4 linked regions of the Homo sapiens genome follow. The protein of the gene in region 3 interacts with the protein of the main gene of each other region in a pairwise test. Each region holds a gene or a part of one and is shown on either strand. Other genes may lie near its edges.

Region 1 (7,108 bases), on a different chromosome or scaffold from region 3:
TTTTTTATGGCTGCATACTATTCCATGATGTATATGTGCCACATTTTCTTAATCCAGTCTATCATTGTTGGACATTTGGCTTGGTTCCAAGTCTTTGCTATTGTGAATAGTGCCACAGTAAATATATGTGCACATGTGTCTTTATAGCAGCATGATTTATAATCCTTTGGGTATATACCCAGTAATGGGATTGCTGGGTCAAATGGTATTCCTAGTTCTAGATCCCTGAGGAATCACCACACTGACTTCCACAATGGTTGAACTAGTTTACAGTCCCACCAACAGTGTAAAAGTGTTCCTATTTCTCCACATCCTCTCCAGCACCTGTTGTTTCCTGACTTTTTAATGATCACCATTCTAACTGGTGAGAGATGGTATCTCATTGTGGTTTTGATTTGCATTTAAGAGAAACCAATTTTTCTACAAATTAATTTGAGTGCCATTTTGTTCCTACCAGGAACTTGATGGGAATCACAGGTTCCTGTATATTTATAAACCGTATATTTACTTCAGAATAATAAATCATATTGTCTTAGTCTGTTAAAAAATTTCTCAACAGAATACTAGCAATCCAAATCCAACAAAATATAAAATTACATCATTATGAAATGGGATTTATGTCAGGAACAGAAAATTGACTCAACATATGAAAATCAAATAATTAATTTGATTATTAAATTGACTCAGCATATGAAAATCAAATAATACAACTGAATCTGATAAAAGGACATCTGTAAATAACCGACAGCGAATGCCATAGTTAATGTTGAAAAACTAAAATTTTTTCCCTTAAGATTAGGAACAACACAAGGATGTCCACTCTTGCCAATTCTATTTAACATTGTACTTGAAGATCTAACCAGGGAAATTAGGCAAGGAAAATAAAAAAGGGCCATCTAAATTAGAAAGGAAAAACTGAAAATATCTTTATTCACAGATAACACAAAGTTATATATATAAACCCTTTAAAATAAATTTTAAAAATAGAGCTAATAGTGATTTCAGCAAGGTTGCAAGATATACACAGAAGTCAATATAAATGGCCCTATTAAAAATCAGTTGTATTTCTACACACTAACAATGAACAATCCAAATATAAAGAAAATCAATTTTATTTACAGTAGCATCAAAAGAATGAAATGCTTAGGAATAAATTTAACCATATAAGTGCAAGACCTGTACAATGGAAACTACAAAATATTGTTGAAAGAAATTAAAGGTGACCTAAATAAATAGTGAAATATTCTGTGTTCGTGGATCAGGAAACTTAACATGGCAATTCTCCCCAAATTTATCCACAGACTTAATGCAATAGCTATCAAAATTCTAGTGGACTTTTGCACAAAAAGTAGTAGTGCTGATCCTAAAATTTATATGAAAATACAAGATAATGTTAAAACAGAAACAAAAGTGGAGTACTCACACTTTCCAATTTCAAAACATACTACACAGCTGCAGTAATCAAGATGGTGTGGCTAGCACAAGGATAGACATATAGATCAAAGAAATAGCATTCAGAGTCCAGTAATAAATCATATATCTATGGTGAGTTGATTTTCAACAAGGGTTTCAAGACTACTCAATGGGAAACAATAGTCTTTTCAACAAATGTTGCTATGGCAATTGGATATTCACATGCAACAGAATGAAATTGGGCCCCTAACTCCCACCAAATACAAAAACAATTCAAAATAATTCAAATACCTCAGTGTAAGAGCTCAAACTATAAAGCTATTTATTATAGGATTACATAGGTGTAAATCTTCATGGCCTTGGATTGGGCAGTGGTTTCTTAAATGACACCAAATGGGCAAGCTACAAAAAAAATAGAGATAAATTTGACTTCATCAAAATTAAAACCTTTTGTGCTTCAAAGGACACCATTTAAAAATGTAAAGACAACCATAGAATGGAGAAAATAGATGCAAATCATATCTGGTTAGGGTCTAGTATCTAGCTAATACAAAGAGCTCTGACAACTCAACAATAAAAAGATATTAACTCCATTTTTAAATGGGCAAAAGATTTAAATAGACATTTCTCTAAAGAAGGCATACAAATGTCCTATAAGGACATGAAAAGATTCTCAACATCACTAGCCATCAGGGAAATCCAAATGTAAATCACAAAGAGATCCTACTTTATACCTACTATAATAGCTATAATCAGAAGAAAAAAAAGACAAGAAGTTTGGAAAACGATGTGGAGAAATGGTAATTCTCATACATTGCTGGTGGGAATGTAAAATTGTGCAGTCACTTTGAAAAACAGCTTGGCATTTCCTCAAAAAGTTAAACATAGGGTTACCATATGATCCCACACCTAGGAACCTACCCAAAAGAACTGGAAACATATTTCTACAAAAATGCTCACACAAAAAAAATGTATACACAAATGCTCACAGAAACATTTAAACATTTAACAGCTAAAACGTGAAAACAATCTAAATGTCCATTAACTGACAATGAATACAATGTGGTATATCCATGTGAAATTATTCAGCCATAAAAAAATACTGATACATGCTATAACACAGATAAACCTTGAAAACATTATACTAAATTAAAGCCAGACACAAAAGCCACACATTATATGATAGCATTTATATGAAATCTCCAGAATAGACAAATCCATAAATACAGAAAAGTAGAGTAACTGCTAAGGGCTGAGGGAAAGGAGGAACAGGGAGAGACTGCTAATGAGTGTTTTACGGGGGTGATGAAAATATTTTGGAATTAGATAATGGTGAGAGTTGCACAATTTTATGAATATACTGAAAACCATTTAATTGTTTACTCTAAAATGGTGACTTTAATGGTAAGTGAATTACATATTAATAAGTTTTTAATAAGACCTTATAGAAACCAATAGTGAAAATGTATCATAAATCTGGGAATGAAACTCTAACCTATGTGCCTGGAGGATGGAGAGAGAGATTGATAAAACTGAGTTTTGGCAAACGTGAGGAAAAGGAGTTTCACTTTTTTGAATGTTGTATGTTCCTTGCTGGTATTAACTGGCACATTTATTTGAGTAAGAAATTTAGCAGTTTGCCTTAAAAAAAGATAAAGGACATACCCTAAGAGCCGGGATTTTCACTTGTAGAAATCTAATATCAATGTGTGGCTGGCATAGTTGGCACTCAGTGATTTTCTCTATTATAAAGGTGATAACCATAGGGGGAGATACTAAATTATGCAGTAAATTCCTGCAGCTAAACTCAGCTCTCACTTCTGCTTCTTTTTCTAAAAACAAGACAGTATTCATACTATAATGTACTATGACCATGAAATTTCTGTTCTTTTAATCTTTGCAAGCTGCTTAAATGGGAAGGTGAAATTCTTCCCTAAAATATAGGGTCTTTTTTCTAGGAATACTGAGCATATACTAGCAGAACAGTTAAAGATTTAATGTAGAGTTCCAGCCTCTTTTTGGAGTGGGGGTAGGATGGGGAAAAGACAGAAAGCTTGAACCTCACCCAAACACCATGCAGCTACAAAAAACCCAAGAAATATTCAGAGTGACTTAAGTATAAAGCTTCATGAAAATGAGCAGCGACTATGCATTGATTGATAAAATCAATTACTACTGAAAGAAGTTCCTAAGTGAACCTATATATTTTTTTCTTTAACTCTTTCTCTGAATGGTGATATCTCTTTAAATATGGCATTGCTATTATTTGTAAACACTGTCCTTTGTTCAAATAGAATTCTATCAATTCCTCTAACATGTGGAAAACCATGTGAATCTACTTTTCTAATTAACCATACCCAAGCCTTTCAGTCTACGAAGACATAATCTGAAGTCCACTTGTCCAAATTGCAGGCAGAACACCAAACAAGGAGAAATAGCTTCAGAAATCTACTCCATTATCCAAAAGGTGACAAATGACAACTAAACTTCCAGGATGCTCATTGCATCACCACTCCTCTACAGCTGGTTCCATGGAAGCATGGAGTTTCCACCAACATACCAGCTACCACCCACAAGGCCGCATCCTGCTATCTACCTAGCATGGTAGAGAGACAGGGATTGTGACATAAGCAAATACCCTCAGACTGATATATGTAAATGCCAGCCTATGAGCTTCCTGGTAGGGACACCAGCTGTGAAGTCCTCATAACAGCCAACTTCTTGCAACTTTCAAGCTGACGGCCTCAGGAATGGGAGGAAGGACTCCTCCACTGGAGAACTGATAGCAGTATTCTGGTAGAGGAGGCATCAAGAGTCCTGGGAGGCCGGTGGTAATCATGTAGGCACCATGGAAACTGCTATGTGCGTTTGCTGTCCATGTTGTACATGGCAGAGATGTTGTCCTCAGTTATGCTCCTGTCTGTGCTGCAAGTTCATCTTCACCTCAGAGCGGAACTGCACCTGCTTCCCCTGCCCTTACAAAGATGAGCGGAACTGCCAGTTCTGCCACTGCACCTGTTCTGAGAGCCCCAACTGCCATTGGTGTTGCTGCTCTTGGGCCAATGATCCCAACTGTAAGTGCTGCTGCACAGCCAGCAGCAATCTCAACTGCTACTACTATGAGAGCCGCTGCTGCCGCAATACCATCATCACTTTCCACAAGGGCCGCCTCAGGAGCATCCATACCTCGTAAGTGCCAGGCACCAGATGTGGGGCCGCATTGGGTCATGAAAACTAGGGACCACTTGCCAGCTGTGAAGTCTACAGGGCAGGCCAGTGAGCCTCTGAGTTCATTTCTTTATCTAAAAGGAGGAGCCAAGAATTTTGTAGCAATTAATTGTATCCTAAATGGTCACTATGTATGTAGACCATGAGCTCCAAATCTAAGCGCCATTAACTATGTAAATGAGCACTTCACTCTTCTGAACCCCAACTCTCTCATCTGTACAAAACAGTAATAGCTAATACTTAGTGCTTAAGGAACTTGCCAGGCACTTCATGCATGACCCCAGCTAACCCCTCACCCTAAGTCCACTGTTTCCATGAGGAAACTGATCCTTTGAGAAGTTAAGTAGCCCCAGGATCACACAGCTGGAAAGATACAGAGTCAGGATTGGAACCTAAAATTTGGGATCTTAACTTTAAAATGCTGTATTGCAAAACGGAGACAATACCCCCCCCATGATATTGTAGATATAAGGATTAATGTATGTGCTTTGTAATCTGTATGTGATATAAAAATATAAATTGCTCTTTCTCTTCCTATGAACTCTTAATACCTGTAACTTTTAATGGAAAAGAAAGAACTTCTATGGGGCACTTTTGACCCTGCGGACCATATAAATACCCCATACATCCATGAACTCCTACTACCTTCTTTTTCCCATCCAGAAGTCATAGTACTTAGGGTCTCAATTATTCATTTGGAGTGCTAACCCTTCATATCAGGTCCTACATTATCCTCACCTGCTCTACCAAACCAGTCTTTTTATGTCACACATGAGGGGAGTCTGAAGTAGTAAGAGCACACTTCTTAGAAGCGGAAAGATGACAGCACCATAAGATGACAGGATTAGAAGAGGCAGAAAAATGGAAGGCCAGTTTGAAGGCTTTCAAGCCTGGAAAAGCAATTCTGTGAGCAAAGGTTTGGTGAATTCAGGGGAAAGATATTATCCATCTTGCAATTAAACATTTAGTAGATGCTTAACAAACATAGCTCTCCACCCATGACCCTCTCATAGTGTTTGCATAAATAGGAAATCCAGGGATTCTCGATGCAAGTCTAGAAATCCTAAAACATGGAAAATTGTGTCCACACTCCTCTCTCAACTACCTGTTGTTCAGTTGTGCAACAGCAACTGAACCTCTGAGCCCATTTCAACAGGAAAGGGATAAAATTGGTGCTTTAGGAAAATGCCTTAGGCTCAGTAGCTCCCCAACGTTACTGTGCATTGAAGTCACCTGAGGATCTTTTAAAATTACTGATGCCTGATCCCCACCCCCCCAAACATTGATTTTATTGGTCTGGGGTACCATCTGAGCATCTGAATTAATTAGAATCAACCCCCCCACCCCGCTTCAGGTGATTCTAATGTGCAGAATGGCCTGCAGGAGGCTAGGAGGGAAGCCAGGAGATTTGATAGGTGGTACAGTAAGAATCCAGGTGCAAGAACAGGCCTGATTTTGGGAGACAGAGGGGGCTGTGCAGAGGAGCAGAGACAGGATATCTCAGCAAGAAGATAAAAGCGCTGGGCTTGATGACTGTTTTGAAATGGAACCATGGCCACTGAATGCCCCGTCCAAGCCTGAGGCTTTTGGAGGATGGGCAGGGATGCTACCACAAGTGTTAGGAGGTCGGCTCTGGGTGCTTTTCTTCAATCTGGCCTCTCTCCTGGCTTCTGACCCTCTGCCTCCCCTGCTTCTCATCACCACCTTCTGCTCAGCACCTTACTTGTCCTGCCTCACTCTGGTCTCATTCATCCCTCTCCATCTTAATCTTTTTGTCACTTCCTTTTTCACCCCTAACACAGCTCCCTAGGCCATTAATACCTGTCTCTTAGCCCTGAGACCTCTTTCTCATCCTCCAACACCTCCCTCCCCCACTTCTTCTTTCTTTTTTGTGAAAATGCTAGTTCATGAGCTTCCTAGTAGAGATACCTCCTGTGAAGGCCTCATAACAGCCTCTCTTTATATTATACCTTGATTCTCCAGGCCTTACTTTTTTAAGCAAACTAAAGTCCATCCAGGCACTACATGGACAATTAACCTGTACCACCAGGTGATCCCTTCAGGACCCATGCAGGAATCTGGGAAAGCAGAGAGGAAATAGAGGTGAGAACATCGAGGCCAGCATGCCTAGAGCTCCCAGATCCCTAAGGGACAAATTTTCCAGGTGCCTTAATATACACAGGGAGCATTCTCTGTCACCACAGGGCCACTCCATTCCAATATACTTGGGAAGCACCTGTGACTGTCAGGACTCAGACATAGGCTCCTGGCCAAGGGAGCAGGGAAGACAGGGACACATAAGGAATGCAAGAAGACAAAAGCAAAAAGGAACACAGCCGCAATGTCGAGATTAGTATCCAAATATTATTATGCAAACAGAGGAGATAGCAATAGCAGCAAATTGTGTGCCTTTTACACCTCCATTCCCACAGCTATTTCATTTATTTTTATACACTGCATTTGCTGA
Region 2 (3,291 bases), on a different chromosome or scaffold from region 3:
CTCGCTGTTGCCCAGGTTAGAGTGCAGTGGCACAATCTTGGCTCACTGCAACCTCCGCCTCCCGGGTTCAAGCAATTCTCCTGCTTCAGCCTCCCAACTAGCTGGGATTACAGACACTCACCATCATGCTCGGCTAATTTTTGTATTTTTGTAGAGACGGGGTTTCACCATCTTGGCCAGGCTGGTCTTGAACTCCTGACCTCGGGTGATCCATCCACCTCGGCCTCCCAAAATGCTGGGATTACAGGCATGAGCCACCGCGTCCGGCCCCCTTTTTCTTGATTATAAATGTAAATACATGTTTATTGTTTTAATAATTGGGATACATAAAATATAAAAAAGAAAATGAAAAACAATCATATCACTATTAATATTTTGGTATGGGTACAATTTTTGCTATTTATATACATCACAGGTACAAATACACTTTTTAAAAAGTTTGAGACCAGGTGTGGTGGCTCACACCTGTAACCCCAGCACTTTGGGAGGCCGAGGCGGGTGGATCACCTGAGGTCAGGAGTTCGAGACCAGCCGGACCAACATGGTGAAACCCTGTCTCTACTAAAAATACAAAAATAATCCCAGCACTTTGGGAGGCCGAGGCGGGCGGATCACGAGGTCAGGAGATCGAGACCATCCCGGCTAAAACGGTGAAACCCCGTCTCTACTAAAAATACAAAAAATTAGCCGGGCGTAGTGGCGGGCGCCTGTAGTCCCAGCTACTTGGGAGGCTGAGGCAGGAGAATGGCGTGAACCCGGGAGGCGGAGCTTGCAGTGAGCCGAGATCCCGCCACTGCACTCCAGCCTGGGCGACAGAGCGAGAGACTCCGTCTCAAAAAAAAAAAAAAAAAATACAAAAATTACCCAGGCGTGGTGGCTCACACCTGTAATCCCAGCTACTCAGGAGGCTGAGGCAGGAGAATTGCTTGAACACAGGAGGCAGAGGTTGCAGTGAGCTAAGATCGTGTCAATGCACTCCAGCCTGGGCAACAGAGCAAGACTCTCTCAAAAAAAAAAAAAAAAAAAAAAAAACAGTTTGAGATAGTATTGTACATACTGTTTTCTCACATAATATGTTGTAAGTATTTGCCTGTATCGTTAAATATTTAAATGCGTGTTTATAATGGCTGTATATTAACCTGTGTCCCATGTACTAGATAGTTTTAGCAAATACACCATTTTTGAACCTTTGGGCTTTGTGTGTATCTCTGATTCCTTATACTAAATTCTTAGAAGTGCCTTTCATGGAGCAAAGGATGTGTTATGTTTTCAAGGACCACCGGGGTGATTAACTGGCACCTTTTCTTCTCTTTGCAGCAGCCCACTCACCCAGTGTACAACATTGGACCAGACAAGGTGATCCAGGCCACTACATACTTTCTACAGAAGCCAGTCCCAGGTTTTGAGGAGCTTAAGGATGAGACATCGGCAGAGCCTGCAACCGACTAGAGGACCTGGGTCCCGGCAGCTCTTTGCTCACCCATCTCCCCAGTCAGACAAGGTTTATACGTTTCAATACATACTGCATTCTGTGCTACACAAGCCTTAGCCTCAGTGGAGCTGTGGTTCTCTTGGTACTTTCTTGTCAAACAAAACCAATGGCTCTGGGTTTGGAGAACACAGTGGCTGGTTTTAAAAATTCTTTCCACACCTGTCAAACCAAAAATCTATCAGCCCACGTGGTGTGGTTGGTGAACAGTGCATGCCAGGAGGAAGCAGTCCCTCCTCACCAGCTCTCCAGCCAGGACGATCACACAGAGATGAATGGCATCTGAGTATTACGGCATCCAGAGCCACTGCTGACTCCCACTTGCACGCCACCATTCAGTCACCAGACTGGGTGCCCTCCGATGGGTGGAATAAGTCTGCTTCATGCCAAGGCTGGGCTTTGGGTCCCACCAAGATGAGTTCTCTGTAAGACTGTGGTGGAGTTGCACCAGGAGGTGCCTCTGCCTCTCGACTTGCACCCTGGTCATTTGTAAGGGAAAAGAGCTGGAGGTGGGGAGAGAAAGATCTCCTTCAGTTGGGAGTCCTTCCACTTCAACACTGGAGAACTGAGCCTTGCATCTCTCCAGGGTCCAAGGCCACGCTTGGTGCACAGGCAAGACTTGCTTCAGCCCCAGGTGTGGTGACTTAGACCTAGGAAACCAATTATGAGTGGAAAGTGACCCTCTAGTTCAACTGTGCCAGAGGAAACAGCCCTCCAGTGCCCACCTGCCTCACTCCTCCCTATCATGTACCGTGAAAACCCCCTCTGATGGCCTCAAGGCAGTGCCTGCAGGCCGAGGCCCTTCTGGGGGTTTCTATCTTTCTTCCACCAGACTCCAAGCCCACTCTCCTCCAAGACTGTGTTGTCTTTTCTCACCAAGAGTATTAACACTACTAAGTCTTTCACCTTAACTTATGACTCAGGATTTATTCACGTCCTGCCCACTCTAGGCTCACAGGAATAAAATCAAGTGCTAGACACACTGGCTGCTACTAAGGCACTAGCCTCTGTAGCTGGTGGTGGCAGCGTGGGGTGCCGCCCAGCGTGCTGGGTCCTGGCAGTGCCTCTGCTGTGCTGCACATTGAGCCCTTTCTCAGTCAGTGGAGTATCAAGTTGGGCCATCTGTCTACTGACCTGGCCTTCATGTAAGCAGCTGTGGGCTGCGGGCAGACAGGAGCTCAGAGATGCAGCATGAGGCGCTTAGAAAAACCTGGCCATTTGCTGCCTCTAATTCCCTTTTGCTTTGCCATATTGGGCTATGTATTACCTCCTTGAAATAATAAAAGAATAACATTTTCTATGATGTCTCTTATTTGTGATCTGTACCAAGAAAATGCCCAATGGTAGGAGCTACTAAAGGTTGCTCAGGGATCGTCAGTCTCCTGTGTGCAGGATTCCAGACTGTTCACATCGGTGGTGACAGAGGAATGACCGAGTTCCATCCTCACATGCCGTCTCCTCCAGTAGAGGAAGCCGTGGGCCTAACAGAGAGTGGGAAGAGATGTTTTCCAAGCTCCCTGGGGTAATTCGGTATGCTATGTCCCAGCCCTCCACACACTGCACTTCATGGTCTGTCTCCGACAGACAGCAAGGACTGGGCCTAGTAGCCCCAGAGCAGGCTGACTTAGCAAGGGTGGGTGGATGTCTGGCCAGAGGCAGGGGCTGTCACAGGGACAGGCTGGAACTCTGTGGCCACTTGGCTTTCCCTTCCTCTGGCGAGAGACCCTCTCCCATGGGAGGCCAAGAACATGGATGTCCTGTGGCCTGACCCTCTTGGAGGGGAGAGAAGATGGTGTCCTTAG
Region 3 (7,818 bases):
AGAGGATGATGGGGTGAGGGTGCTGCTCTGGAGGATGGGCAGAGAGGTGAGGGCTGGCCTGGGTTGTAAAGGATGCAAGGAACCAGCCATAAGCAGGGCTGGGGGAGGTGAATGACGAACTGAGTGCACGCAAATGCCTGCGCCCAATTCTGACCCCTTTTTCTTATCCCTTTGCCTGACCTTGCTTTGTGCTATTGAGTTTAATACCACAAACTCTTGATAATGTCCTCCAGTCCTCCACGCCCTGGACCCAGCCCTGGGACATGGGATCAAATGCCACTAACAGCATTTTGCCCAAAAGGAACTCCCAAGCCAGTAGGGGAGACAAGTGAGCCCCACTATGGCCAGCCCTCACCGCCACTCTTGGGCTCATTCACCCGGACCCTGCACTGCTTCCCCTCCCCACTCAGTCCTGTGACTTAAGAGTCTTTACCACCTACCCCCAAAGAGGGGTGTGAGGTAAAGGGGAATATGTGGGCTTTGTAGTCTAAACAGTCCTGGGTTCAAATCCCAGCTCCACCCCTGTCTACTACATGCCCTTGGACAAGAGACTGTTTCCCTAAGTCAACTGTCCTTGAAGCCTCGTGACCTGCAGTGGGGGGTCCCAAGCAACAGCCGACATCTGAAGGCCTTTTCCTTCCACTGGCTGGCAGAGTCTTGAGACTGATCAGACCTCCTCAGGAAGGTTCTTCCCTAGGTCCTGCCCACTGGGGGAAGCAGTGATGAAGAGCTCAGACTGCTTTGTGCCCACTGTTAGATGGGGAAAGCAAGCCCCTGCACTGGGGAATGGTCCAGGAAATGTGAGTAGGTGCTCAGTAAATATTCGTTGAATAAATAAATGAATGGGCGAATAAATTTCGGCAAGTGTCTTTAGAGCCTCCCATCAGGAAAACTGGAAGGGCCCCTAGGGACTCCTAACTAGGGTGTGTAAGCCAAGAACAGCATGGCAGGTCAGCAACCTGTGACATGGTGTGTGTGCCAAATTATGTGTTTCTGTCTTTTTCTATGGAAGCAGACCACAATATTTTCATCCGTGTTTCAAATAGGGTAGCTGACCCAAATACATTTAAAGTCCTGATTCAGTCTCTACCCCATTTCACAGACAGGGAAATGGAGTCTCATTTCCCTCAGGAAGTCAATGGCAGAATGATCCTGGAGGAACCTGGCCTCCCACAGCTGGGCTCATGGGCCAGCTGGAAATCCCAGCATCTTGCCTGTCATCCCTGAAGCCCCACCCTCTTCTAGATGACTCTCGGCAAAGCCTCCACCAGCTGTACCCCTTTCTTCCAGCTTCTTCTTGGGGAAGAGGAGAGGATGTGCTCCATTCTGAAAGTCTCTCTAGCCCCGGGAATCCTCATCCCCAGTTCTTACAATTCTCATTTCCTAATCTCTTTCAGTGTGTATGCCTCACTGATCAAGTGACAGCAGGTAAATTACAAGGGCAGCAAGAAATTACAACCTCAGGAACACCAAATACATATCAGAACATACCTGGCCAAAACAGTGCTTAGAGGAAAACGTATGCCCTTGAGTGCATTTATTTAAAAAGAAAGAAAATTGACAAATTAAATTTTCAACTCAGCAAAGAAGGAATAAATCTTTTTTTAAACCGCAACATTCACGAAAGAGGTGGCATCTTAAAAGGGGATAATGACATCAAAGGCTTTTTTAAAAACCAACAAAATAACAAACCTTTGGCAAGTATGATCAGGAGAAGGCATGAATGAGCGACACGGGGAATGAGAAGTGGAAGGCATTAGTACAGATTCGTATGAGAGTTGCAAATTCTGAGAGAATCTTCCCACAATGTTACAACAACACATTTGAAAACTCAGATGGAATGGACCATATTCTGGGCACTGGCTTCCAGAGTTGAGCAGGCATCAGAATCACCTGGAGGGCTTGTTAAGCACAGACTGCCGAGTCCTACCCCAGAGTGTCTGATGCCGTAGGTCTGGCGAGGGTCCAATAATTTGCATTTCTAACAAATTCTCCAGTGATGCTGATGCTGCTGCTCTGGAAACACACTCTGAGAACCACTGTCCTAGGGACTAACCAAGTTCCCCCCATTCCTGAGCTGCCTAAGAGCTATCTGGATAGGAAGTGAAAGGAGGCTTATAATTAGTGGCCCAAAGCTCCTTCATCTGTATGACAGGGCTGGACGATGAGGGACCGTGGATCTCAGGAAGCCGGAAGCCAAGCAGTGAAGCAGAGCCCTGACCCGTGCCAGGCTTTACCTGGGGCGCTTATTTAATCCCATGAGGTTTATTTACCAGATGAGAAAACTGAGGCATAAAGAGGATGAATAATTCCCTGAGTCCACAGCTGGTAAACTGAGGTGGGAATCCCATTCTTAAGCACACAAGCTGGGAGCAGCGCTGTGCCACCCACGCCTTAATTCTGTGCCACAAACCTCTGTGCGGTGGGCCTTGTTGTCCTGATTTAACAGTGTCTGAAGTGACAAGGGCAGCCCTGAGTCCCGGGCACTGGAAGCCAGAAGGGAAGTGGAGCTGGTGAGGTGCCAACTCCAGCCCCCAAGTGGGGAGCTGTGCTTCCCTTGAACTCTCAAAGCCTCAATTCCCTCATTAGTGAGAAATTGGGGCCACTAACAGCCCTTTCCTCACAGGGTCATTGTGAAGAATAAATAAGTGTCCACCTCCCTGCCTGGCACAGGCTAGGGTCTCAGCTACAGTAGCTTTATAGTTGTCATTAAAGTTATTATGATATAACCGCCAGAGTTTCACACAGGCACTGCCACAGATGTTATCTCATTTTGTTCTCACAGCCACCCTGGGGGTAGCTGGTGCCCTTTTTGTTTTACAAATAAGGAAAATGCGGTTCTGGGAGGGGCGGTTAGGGACCCACACTGCCAGTGGCAGAGCCTGAATTAGAAGCAGGAGGCCCCCTGGAGCCAGGGCAATGGCATCTACCCCATCTGAGGGTCGTTGTCGCTGGAAGGGAGTGAGGGAGCACTTGCCCAGACCCCAGACATCCTGCAGCTCTCACTCCTCACTGTTGGGCCTCCCTCTCCACACCCACCAGGAAGGCTTAGCAAGGGCCAGGAATTTGCCCAAGGTCACACAGCGGGCAAGTGACCTAACTCCAGACCCAGGCCTGGAGGCCCTGCAAATCCTGACGCCTTTGGATTGTTGGGAGAAGAGAGAAAGAATCCCCAACCTGCACCTCCTGTCTTTCCCCGTCCTCTGAAACTGACCCTACTGGTAGACAAATACACCTTTCTCTCCAACGTACTGAGCCCCTGCAAATAAAATTAAACTGCCAACAAAATAAACAAGAGTCACAACAATAATACATCAGCCATTACTCTGGGGGGATAGAGTGGGAGGTGAGCCACGCTGCCCAGTGCCTACTACGTGCCAGGCCCAGTGCTCTGCGCTCCCTCAATATCTCACTCGCGGCTCACGAACAACCCGCATGCATGCATTATTTTCCTTTTTTGCAAACGAGAAAACCGAAATCTAAATATATAGAGTCAATTTCTCAAGGTCACTCAGCGAGGAAATGGCCAGTCCAAATTTGAACACACTTCTGGCCAACAACAGCACATCCGAGCTCTCACCACTGTCCACACCACAAGGAGCGGGAGGAAGAACCCAGGCCAGGGGTGCGACACTCAAAGAGTTTGCACCTAACGATTTTAGAATTCGCTGGAAGAAAATGATTCCGCTTGTCTCCCCAAAGCTGCAGCGGAAGGTGACTACTTCGTGTGCGGTCCTGTCCACGGTGCCCTGGGCCGGGTAGACAGTCACTGAGGCGCGAGCAGAACGGGGAGTGGTTCCAGCGCCCAAAGTGGACTGGAGCCGGGAAGGGCTCACCAGTCGCGTTTCCCAAAGAAATCCCGCAATTTGCTCTAGGAGCTGCCCGCGCCTTTGACATTCAGGAACCCGAAGTCCCTAGACCCGCCGAGCCGCGAGCGGGTTCCCACGCGCGACCACAGCCCCCTTCCATCCTGCAACGAATTACGAGAGTCAGGTCCCCGCTCCCCACCGGGCGACCCCGCGTCCCTAGCCCAGCCGCAGCTGGCACGCGTGGGCACCTGCGAGTCACGCCTCGGTCCGCCTGGCCGGAGCCAGGGAGTGTCTCCAAAGTGGCCGCGAGGCCGCGGCCGAAACCCGGGCGGGGGCGAATTCTCCCCACGCGGGTCGGCGTCATCCGGGGCGCGGAGAACGCTACGGTGCTCCCCTCGCCCCGCGCGCAGGCAGCGCGAAGCCTGCCCCGGGTAGTGCGCCCCTTTCGTTCCTCCGGCGGCGGTAGCGTCCAAGGGGCTTCTGCGGATTCCGCCGGGTCGTCCCGGGGTTGCAACTCCATTGTACCTGAAAGGATGCATTTGGTTTGGCTTTTGCTCAGATGAAAAAAAAAAAAAATTGGAAGAAAACGAAAACCCACTCAGCAAAAGACAATTTCACAAGCGGAGCGCTCTACCCACCCAGCGCGGTGTCTGGGAAGCGGCCCGGCCCGGAGGAGCGGGGAGCGTCTGCTAATTGCAGCTTCGTTAGATTTCGGGTTTGGGAGGCTGTGGTTCGGGCTCTAATATCCGCCGCCCATTATCCCTGCTAATAAATTTGACCTATTGTTCGTTTGTTAAAATGATGTCACCTTGGAACAGTCCCTAAGCTCCTATTTCCATGAATTAGGCCTTTATTGAAAGCCGGGAGCCAATGAGAGGAGAGAGGCTTGTTGATCGCAGCCAATGGCTGCGGCAGGAGAGGAATTAGCAGCGGAAACTCCAGGTTCGGTTCAAGAAAGATGACACAGAGCCTGTCGGGCCCGCGCACTCTTGGCAAAGTTTCAGTGCGACGAGAGGCGCCGGGCGCTCCATGGCCGCGCCGTAACGGGGACCCAGCCGCCTCCCCGCCCAGCCCAGCCCAGCCCTTCCGCCCGCCCAGGATGGAGGCGCCCGCCAGCGCGCAGACCCCGCACCCGCACGAGCCCATCAGCTTCGGCATCGACCAGATCCTTAACAGCCCGGACCAGGACAGCGCACCCGCCCCGCGGGGCCCCGACGGCGCCAGCTACCTGGGAGGGCCCCCCGGGGGCCGTCCGGGCGCCACATACCCGTCTCTGCCCGCCTCCTTTGCGGGCCTCGGCGCGCCCTTCGAGGACGCGGGATCTTACAGTGTGAACCTGAGCCTAGCGCCCGCAGGCGTGATCCGGGTGCCGGCGCACAGGCCGCTGCCCGGGGCCGTGCCACCGCCTCTGCCAAGCGCGCTACCCGCCATGCCCTCCGTGCCCACGGTCTCCAGCCTTGGCGGTCTCAATTTCCCCTGGATGGAGAGCAGCCGCCGCTTCGTGAAAGACCGCTTCACAGGTGAGCAGAGCTGGCGACCAGGCTCCAGGCCTCCGCCCTCTCGGGGCCAGAGGCGCCGCGCCCTGTGCGCTCCACTCCCGGAAACCATTTCAGAGGCCCAAGCGCGGCGGAGGCCTCGGCCCCAGGGCCCCGGGCAGCCGTGGTGGGGAGGGTAATCGGAGAGTTGCAGGAAAATAAGCCCGTGCCCGGGGGAAGGGACAGGGGGCGAGGGGGTCTCCCGACCGGCTTGGTGTCTCTGGAAACGCGCGCGACCAGCGAAATAGCGGAGCTCTCCGTGTCCCACGGGGCGCCACGGGGTCCGCATGGGGCCTGAACGGTGGCGGAGCCGGGCTGGGCTTCAGGGGCCCTCCTGTGTCTCCGCAGCGGCGGCCGCACTCACGCCCTTCACCGTGACCCGGCGCATCGGCCACCCCTACCAGAACCGGACGCCGCCCAAGCGTAAGAAGCCGCGCACGTCCTTTTCCCGGGTGCAGATCTGCGAGCTGGAAAAGCGCTTCCATCGCCAGAAGTACCTGGCCTCTGCCGAGAGGGCGGCGCTCGCCAAGTCCCTCAAAATGACGGACGCGCAGGTCAAGACCTGGTTCCAAAACCGGAGGACCAAGTGGCGGTGAGAGAGGCCTGACCCGGCCCACCTTACACCTGCCCTTCACCTGTCCCGCCCCGAGCCGCAGCCTCGCACTAGCCCTATTTTAAGGCTATCCACTACCCCCGCCCCCCTCTGCCTCCCCCAAACACACCCCCACCCCGCCTTCGCAGATTGTACCTCTTCCTTTCACCCTTCTCGCTGGCCTGTGCTTCTCTCTCCATCGTGGTCTCCCACGCCTTGGTTTCTCCTCCATCCCCATCCCCATCTTTCGTGAGCCCCTCCAACTCTCTCCCCGTGTTTTGTACGGTCTCCTGCGTTCACTTGATTTCCTCTCACCCACCCCCGCCCCAAACACACAGGCACACACACACACACACACACGCGCACACACACGGGCCTCTCGCACTCTCCTTCTCCTCCTTCTTCCAGCCCGCCCTCTCGGATTTTCAACAATCCTCGTGGACGCCGGTTTCCTCTCCCCCCATCTCCGCGTCTCCATTCCAGCCGCGTTTTTATCCGATCTCTGTTTTGATTCAACCCGTAAACGGCGAAGCGATCGCGTCTGGAAAGGGGTTCAAGACAGGCCCTGGGCGAACTGGATGAGACTGACCCAGCCCCCGGGCGTCGTGCGGGTGGTGCAGAGCCAGCCTGCTCACCCGCGGACCCCAGCGACCCCGGTTCCCGCAGGGCCAAGTCAGTTACACATAGGCCCTGCCCTTGCTATCTGGCGAAAGGAACAATCTTTATTGTTGGTGAAGCCACAATACCCGGGCGTGCAGGTGGGCGGCGGGCAGAGTCCCCTCCTGGAGACCCTCTGGCACACAACAAAAACAAATGATCCTAACCGGCTCCCTGGATATAAGAGCCTCGGGCGTAAAGCGCGGGCTGGGAGGCAGACGGGTTCTGCGCCTCGAGGCTCCCGGATGGCCTCGGCTCCCGGGAGGGCCGGGGCCCCGCCGGCGGCCCCGCGGTGCCGGGTGCATGACGGTACTGTCCCTCTCCCTCCCCCGGTGCAGGCGGCAGACGGCGGAGGAGCGGGAGGCGGAGCGGCAGCAGGCGAGCCGGCTCATGCTGCAGCTGCAACACGACGCCTTCCAAAAGAGCCTCAACGACTCCATCCAGCCTGACCCGCTCTGTCTGCACAACTCGTCACTCTTTGCTCTGCAGAATCTGCAGCCCTGGGAGGAGGATAGTTCCAAGGTTCCCGCTGTCACCTCCCTGGTGTGAGCCCACCAGCGCGCACCGTCGCCACGGATCGCCGCCCCCACCCAGCCGGGCGCCCCGGACCCCCCAGGCGGGCTGCGGGGGAACCGGCGCCGAGAGGGGAAGGGGCCGCCTAGCCCGAGTAGGCCCCAGGGCGCGGCCACAGACTGGCGGGCCGCGGAAGGGGGTAGGGCCCGAGCTCCGCGCGGCCGCACAATCCGAGCCCCCGCCCCGCGCCCCGTCCCGCCCCAGGCCCGGGCCTGACAAGAAAGCGCCTTACGTTTCTCCGCCCCCCGCCCGCACCCCCCGGGCCGGGCGCCTGTATTATACTTTGTACTTTTGCCCAAACGTGTAAATAATAAAAAAGTTTTGGCTTTTTTCTTTAGAAACCGGCCACCTGCTTCCCCCGCGGGGGCCGCTGGAGGAAGGGCAGCCGACCCGGCCGCTGGGGGAAGTGCCAGGGGCCCGGGGCACCCTGCGTTTAGGCTGGGTCCACTCTTCTTCTTTTCCGTTCCTTTTATTTAAGTCTTTTTATTTAATAAAAAAGTTAGCTATTTCACTTAACGCCGCTTTTATTTCGTTTTCGTTCCAATAATGCTCGGCGACCCCCGGCCCTGCGCCCCACCCCTGCGGCGGTAGAAGCCGAGCGGCGGCGCGCAGGGCGCGTCCACTTCCGCAACGTTCGTCTGCATTCGCCTCG
Region 4 (7,035 bases), on a different chromosome or scaffold from region 3:
TTGCACTCCAGCCTGGGAGACAAGAGCAAAACTCCAACTCAAAAAAAAAAAAAAAAAAAAAACAGGAAGAAAATATTTAGGGTTCATAATTTAAGAACAGAGAAAAATATTCTAGCCCAAAGAAAGGGTTGGGATCTGAGACTTTTGAAGAAAGGAAGGAGATACAGAAAAGAGATTTCATCCTGGAATGAAATCTCCCTCCAGAGAGCCCTGGGAAAGCACGGTAGCCCCCATCCATCAGAGTGGAGCCCCTTGTGGGGGAAGTGGGCTCGGCTGGGAACCCTCAATTCAGCATAAGCCTCACATGTCCTCTCCTCTCTGTCCCGGTGCAGACAAGGGCATGGCCCCCGCCCTCCGGCATCTGTACAAGGAGCTCATGGGGCCATGGAACAAGGATGAGATCAGCACCACAGACGCGATCTTCGTCCAGCGGGATCTGAAGCTGGTCCAGGGCTTCATGCCCCACTTCTTCAGGCTGTTCCGGAGCACGGTCAAGCAAGTGGACTTTTCAGAGGTGGAGAGAGCCAGATTCATCATCAATGACTGGGTGAAGACACACACAAAAGGTGAGCAGGCAGGGAAAGGAAACCCATTTCCTGGGCCTCAAGAGAAAGGGAATTTGGAAATAAATCCACATATCCCAGTTGGGTGCAGTAGTTCACACCTGTAATCCCAGCCCAACACTTTGGGAGGTCTAGGCGAGAGGAAGGCTTGAGGCCTGGAGTTTGAGACCAGCCTGGCCAACATAACAAGACCTCATCTCTTCAAAAAATTTAAAAACCAGCCGGGCATGGTGGTGCACACCTGTAGTCCCAGCTACTTGGGAGGCTGAGGTGGGAGGATCACTTGAGTCCAGCAGTTCAAGGCTGCAGTGAGCTATGTTTGCACCACCACACTCCAGCCTGGGTCACAGAACAAGACCTCATCTCTAAAAAACAAACAAAAACCAAATCCACATATCCTAAAAAATGCTCCTTTTCAGCATTCTCTTCTCTATGGACAAAGGGCTGGATGCTTTAAGAACCAAATCTTAGGCTGGGCACGGTGGCTCACGCCTCTAATCCTAGCACTTTGAGAGGCCAAGGCGGGCAGATTGCCTGAGCACAGGAGTTCGAGACCAGCCTGGCCAACATGGTGAAACCCTGTCTCTGTCAAAAATACAAAAAATTAGCCAGGTGTGTTGGCGCATGCCTATAATCCCAGCTGCTCGGGAGGATGAGGTTCAAAGAATCACTTGAACCCGGGAGGCAGAGGCTGCAGTGAGCTGAGATCATGCCACTGCACTCCAGCCTGGGTGACAGAGCAAGACTTTGTCTCCAAAAAAAGGAACTAGACGGGTTCATTTAAACCCCTGACTGCAGCCCTTTGACATACATCCAATTGAGGACTGGGGACTCCGGGAAACATCTAAAAGGCTTAAAAACTTTGTCTAACTTCAGCCGGGCATGGTGGCTCACACCTGTAATCCCAGCACTTTGGGAGGCTAAGGCAGGTGGATCAAAAGGTCAGGAGTTTGAGACGAGCCTGACCAACATGGTGAAACCCCGTCTCTACTAAAAATACAAAAATTAGCCAGGCATGGTGGCAGGCGCCTGTAATCCCAGCTATTCGGGAGGCTGAGGCAGGAGAATTGCTTGAACCCCGGAGACAGAGGTTGCAGCGAGCCGAGATCGCGCCACTGCACTCCAGCCTGGCAATAGAGTGAGACTCCATCTCAAAACAACAACAACAACAACAACAAAATCGTCTAACTTCCTGATCTTCCTGATCATTGATTTTCCCATAGGTATGATCAGCAACTTGCTTGGGAAAGGAGCCGTGGACCAGCTGACACGGCTGGTGCTGGTGAATGCCCTCTACTTCAACGGCCAGTGGAAGACTCCCTTCCCCGACTCCAGCACCCACCGCCGCCTCTTCCACAAATCAGACGGCAGCACTGTCTCTGTGCCCATGATGGCTCAGACCAACAAGTTCAACTATAGTAAGTCCAAGAGCCCCTTCCCCACAGCCCACAGCAACTGCATCTCATTCCTGGGGTCTCCCAAGGAATACCCAAAATGTCACCCTCTGAGGGAGGAAGACCACAGGGAATGCTCCCCTTTAAGGGAGGAGAGACCCTAGAATATACTCCAGCTTTGACAAAGATTTCCCAAGCAGGAGACATCAGGATAATGGGAACAGAAGACAGGAGGTTTATCCCATGAAGGATGAAGAAGCTGAAATCCAGAGATTCCCTCAGGGCCACATTTGTCCACCTGACTCCAGGGTCTCATCTTCGTGTGTTGCTAGTGTGATTACCTGGGGATGAGAAATCCTGCTGGGGGAGTTGAGGTTAAGAGGATGAGGACTCCAGGTGCTGTGGCTCACGCCTGTAATCCCAGCACTTTGGGAGGCCAAGGCAGGTGGATCAGGAGTTTGAGGTCAGGAGTTTGAGACCAGCCTGGCCAACATGGTGAAACCCTGTCTCTACTAAAAATGCAAAAATTAGCCAGGTGTGGTGGCAGGCGCCTGTAATCCCAGCTACTCGGGAGGCTGAGGCAGGAGAATCACTTGAGCCCGGGAGGTGGAGGTTGCAGTGAGCCGAACGAAATTGAGCCACTTCACCCCAGCCTGGGCAAAAGAGTGAAATTCCATTCAAAAAAAAAAAAAAAAAAAAAAGGATGAGGACTGGGATGAACTGGTGGCTGGGTGTGGGGAAAATGGAAGTGAAGGAAGGCCAAAAGAGACAGAGAAGGCCTGGCGCGGCGACTCACGCCTATAATCCCAGCACTTTGGGAGGCTGAGAAGGGGGATTGCTTGAGGCCAGAAGTTGAATACCAGTCTGGGCAGCATAGCAAGACCCTGCCTCTACAAAAAAAAAATTTTTTTTAATTAGCCAGGCTTGGTGACATGCATCTGTAGTCTACTCAAGAAGCTGAGGTGAGGCCAGGCACGGTGGCTCACGCCTGTATTCCCAGCACTTTGGGAGGTCAAGGCGGGTGGATGACCTGAGGTCAGGAGTTCAAGACCAGCCTGGCCAACATGGTGAAACCCCATCTGTATAAAAATACAAAAATTAGCTGGGCATGATAGCAGGTGCCTGTAATTCCAGCTACTCAGGAGGCTGAGGTGGGAGAATCTATTGAACCCGGGAGGGGGAGGTTGCAGTGAGCCGAGATCATGCCATTGCACTCCAGCCTGGGCGACAGAGTGAGACTCCTTCTCAAAACAAACAAACAAACAAACAAACAAAATACAGAAGCTGAGGCGGGAGGAACATTTGAACCGGATTCGGAGGCTGCAGTGAGCTATGATTGCACCACTGCGCTCCAGTCTGTGTGACAGTGAGACCCTGTCTCTTACACACACACACACACACACACACATGCACACACACAGAGAGAGAGAAATTAGAAGATACTGAATTGGCAGAAGAGAAGGGAAATAGAAATTAAAATACTGAATAGGGGAGCAGTGAACAGGGGATACCCAAAAGCCAAGAGCGAGAGAGAGCCTGGCTTCCAGAAATAGTGGAGAAGCCAGGAGAACTAGGTGAAAACCCAGTGCTGGGTTGCCATCAGCGAGAGCTGGAGCCATTTCCAACGAACCATCTTGTCGTCTTCACAGCTGAGTTCACCACGCCCGATGGCCATTACTACGACATCCTGGAACTGCCCTACCACGGGGACACCCTCAGCATGTTCATTGCTGCCCCTTATGAAAAAGAGGTGCCTCTCTCTGCCCTCACCAACATTCTGAGTGCCCAGCTCATCAGCCACTGGAAAGGCAACATGACCAGGCTGCCCCGCCTCCTGGTTCTGCCCAAGTAAGCCACCCCGCTATCTCCCCGACCTACCAACCCCTCTCTCCTGGCTCCCTAAAGTCACCGCCCCCAGGTTGAATTTCCCAGATCTGTGATGCTTGCAGGACATGCATGTGTGGGAGGCTGATGGGAAACTGTGGCCTGGGTTTGATTATGAGTCTTGCAATCATCCCTCCCCCTGTTTCTGCTGGAGGGCAGGGGACAGCTCTTCCTGACCACACCCCCACATTGACTATCCCCAGAATACCCAGCAAAAGCCCCCAAAAGGAGAGTCAGAGAAATGAGGGAGGTGGGGGCCCAATCAGTCCACATCTACTTAGGGTCGCCCCATCAGCACTTCCATCCCCAACCCTTTCAAGTCAACATCCAAACAAAAGAAATCACTTCCAAGGACGGAGCAGCTCAAAGCGCAGCTTCTAGCTGGGGTTCCAAGAAAGCAGATTTTTCGAAATCCTTCTGCAGAAGGAAGCAAAGAGATTTTTTGAAATCTTTCTGCAGAAGGAGAAGGCTGGAGCTGGGGAACTCCAGAATTATAGGGAAGCCTCCCACCACGCTCATCCCAAATTTCCGGATGCTATAATGCCAGGCTTGGGGAAAGAGGAGAATTTAGTTGGTTAGCTGGTGCGTGCTCTCACTTGCATCCTCTCTCTTCCTCTTTTTTTTTTTTCTCCTCTCTCTCTGGCTCATAAAAATGGAGGTAATTAGTTGTGCCCTGGTGAGAAGCAGAGAGTGCACAAAGGCCCCCTGCTTGAGTCCTCTTCAGGGTTAGCTCTCAGAAACACAATCTGCAGAACAGATTTTTGTTCCAACATCCTTGCAGGAGAATTTGCCCTTAGCTTCCCCCACCCCAGCCAGGCTGAATAAAATTATGCTGAAACTACTGTCTTATTTGAGGAAAGTAATTAGTCATAGGTGGGAGGGGGTGGGGAGATTGCAGAAGAATGTTCATGAATATTAGGATTTTCAGCTCTAAGGGGGGACTTTGTAAACAGCTTTAGAAGAAGAACCAGGCCGGCTGGGTGTGGTGGCTCATGCCTGTAATCTCAGCATTTGGGGAGGCCAAGGCGGGCGGATCACTTGAGGTCAGGAGTTTGAGACCAGCCTGGCCAACATGGTGAAACCCTGTCTCTATTAAAAATACAAAAATTAGCCAGCCGTGGTAGCGAGCGCCTATGATCCCAGCTACTCCGGAGGCTGAGGCCAGAGAATCACATGAACCTGGGAGGTGGAGGCTGCAGTGAGCCGAGATCACGCCACTGCACTCCAGCCTGGGGGACAGAGCAAGAATCTGTTTCAAAAAAAAAAAAAGAAAAATAGGAAGGAAGGAAGGAAAGGAAAGGAAAGAAGAGAGAGAGAAAGAAAGAGAGAGAGAGAAAGAAAGAAAGAAAGAAAGAAAGAAAGAAAGAAAGAAAGAAAGAAAGAAAGAAAGAAAGAAAAAGAAAGGAAAGAAAGAACGAACGAACCAGGCCTCCCTCTCCAACCTTCACCTCCGTCCCTATTCTGGCCACTTGATTCGGGGGACACCTGGTAGGGGATGGGGAAAGGTGGGAGCTGCCAGCCAGAGGGGACCCCGGCTTGAGCAGCCTCTTGCTGCTATCTGCAGGTTCTCCCTGGAGACTGAAGTCGACCTCAGGAAGCCCCTAGAGAACCTGGGAATGACCGACATGTTCAGACAGTTTCAGGCTGACTTCACGAGTCTTTCAGGTAAGAAGACTTTCCTTTGCATTTTCTCACCCCAGTGGACTGCGGGGGCCCCTAAGAGGAAAAAGGAACCTCTCCTTGAGAGCGGCAGCTGATCTAATCCTGTATCCACATCTGTTTCAGACCAAGAGCCTCTCCACGTCGCGCAGGCGCTGCAGAAAGTGAAGATCGAGGTGAACGAGAGTGGCACGGTGGCCTCCTCATCCACAGGTGAGTCTGGCTCAGGTGAGGCTCCACGGGTGTCGCCTCCATCGCCCTTCAGGATAACTGGTCCCCAGACCCGGAAAGGACCCCGCAGCCCTCTCGGCACAGAGCAGCTCTGTCTGTGCTCAGCCATCACCCACTCCCCACCTGTTTCTCAGCCTGGAAAACGGGCTTGGGACCATGGAACCCTGTTTCCTCGCCTGATGGCTCCTAAGTTCCCTGACTGTGAAAAGGCCTCCTAAAGAAAAACCCAAGTTGTTCCCACAGTGGGAAGTAAACTTAAGAAACATGCTTATCAGGCTGGGCATGGTGGCTCCCACCTGTAATCCCAGCGCTTTGGGGGACCAAGGCAGGTGGATCACTTGAGGTCAGGAATTCGAGACCAGCCTGGGCAACATGGCAAAACCCTATCTCTACTAAAAATACAAAAATTAGGCAGGCGTGGTGGCATGTGCCTGTAGTCCCAGCTACTTGGGAGGCTGAGGCAGGAGAATCACTTGAATCCAGGAGGCAGAGGTTGCAGTGAGCCGAGATCACGCTGCTGCACTCCAGCCTGGGCAATAGAGCATGACTCTGAAGAAAAGAAAGAAAGAAAGAGAGAGAGAGAGAAAAGAAAGAAAGAAAGAAAGAAAGAAAGAAAGAAAGAAAGAAAGAAAGAAAGAAAGAAAGAGAAAGAAAGAGAAGAAAAGAAAAGAAAGAGCTTATCAATAAGCCCTTAAAGGATTTAGATAAATGTGTGTAAGGGAAGAGCTGATCCATTGCTACCAAGCTCCTGGAGGAAACCAGGTCTCAGAGGATGTCCCTAAACTTTTAAGGTTCATATTCAGGAAAACAAACAACTTCCAGCTGGGCTTAGTGGCTCACACCTGTAATCCCAGCACTTTGGGAGGCCGAGGCAGGAGGATCGCTTGAGCCCAGGAATTTGAGACCAGCCTGGGCAATATAATGAGACTGTGTCTCTACAAAAATTAGAAAAAAATTAGCCAGGCATGGTGGCATGCACCTGTAGCCCCAGTTACTTGGGAGACTGAGGTGGGAGGATCACTTGAGCCCATGAGTTCAAGGCTGCAGTGAGCCATGAAGGTGCCACTGCACTCCCACCTGGGCGACAGAGGGAGACCCTGTCTCTAAGAAAAACGGCGGGGGTGGGGGTGGTGCCAGTGCCAGCATCCCTCTGTTCTAAGACATTGTCCCTTCTCTTGCAGCTGTCATAGTCTCAGCCCGCATGGCCCCCGAGGAGATCATCATGGACAGACCCTTCCTCTTTGTGGTCCGGCACAACCCCACAGGTGAGCCTGGAACCCATCACGTTCCACATCCTCCCACCC

Evidence for each region.
Region 1: the proteins of TLX3 (region 3) and TRIM42 interact in binary tests that used the Homo sapiens proteins (3 or more experiments, as listed by UniProt).
Region 2: the proteins of TLX3 (region 3) and FNTB interact in binary tests that used the Homo sapiens proteins (3 or more experiments, as listed by UniProt).
Region 4: the proteins of TLX3 (region 3) and SERPINE1 interact in binary tests that used the Homo sapiens proteins (3 or more experiments, as listed by UniProt).

What each region holds. Positions count from the first base shown.
Region 1 is NC_000003.12:140,673,969-140,681,076, forward strand, and holds the start of TRIM42 (tripartite motif-containing protein 42), read left to right. Parts: upstream 1-4,095; 5' UTR 4,096-4,261; coding exon 4,262-4,602; intron 4,603-7,108.
Region 2 is NC_000014.9:65,059,864-65,063,154, forward strand, and holds the end of FNTB (protein farnesyltransferase subunit beta), read left to right. Parts: intron 1-1,317; coding exon 1,318-1,449; 3' UTR 1,450-2,787; downstream 2,788-3,291. Other genes in the region: CHURC1-FNTB protein, read left to right, coding at 1,318-1,449. UniProt on the Homo sapiens protein: Essential subunit of the farnesyltransferase complex. Catalyzes the transfer of a farnesyl moiety from farnesyl diphosphate to a cysteine at the fourth position from the C-terminus of several proteins having the C-terminal sequence Cys-aliphatic-aliphatic-X.
Region 3 is NC_000005.10:171,304,458-171,312,275, forward strand, and holds TLX3 (T-cell leukemia homeobox protein 3), read left to right. Parts: upstream 1-4,790; 5' UTR 4,791-4,908; coding exon 4,909-5,329; intron 5,330-5,692; coding exon 5,693-5,936; intron 5,937-6,931; coding exon 6,932-7,142; 3' UTR 7,143-7,682; downstream 7,683-7,818.
Region 4 is NC_000007.14:101,130,089-101,137,123, forward strand, and holds part of SERPINE1 (plasminogen activator inhibitor 1 isoform 2 precursor), read left to right. Parts: intron 1-332; coding exon 333-566; intron 567-1,786; coding exon 1,787-1,981; intron 1,982-3,606; coding exon 3,607-3,805; intron 3,806-5,405; coding exon 5,406-5,506; intron 5,507-5,626; coding exon 5,627-5,713; coding exon of another isoform or gene 5,714-5,728; intron 5,729-6,891; coding exon of another isoform or gene 6,892-6,912; coding exon 6,913-6,996; intron 6,997-7,035. UniProt on the Homo sapiens protein: Serine protease inhibitor. Inhibits TMPRSS7. Is a primary inhibitor of tissue-type plasminogen activator (PLAT) and urokinase-type plasminogen activator (PLAU).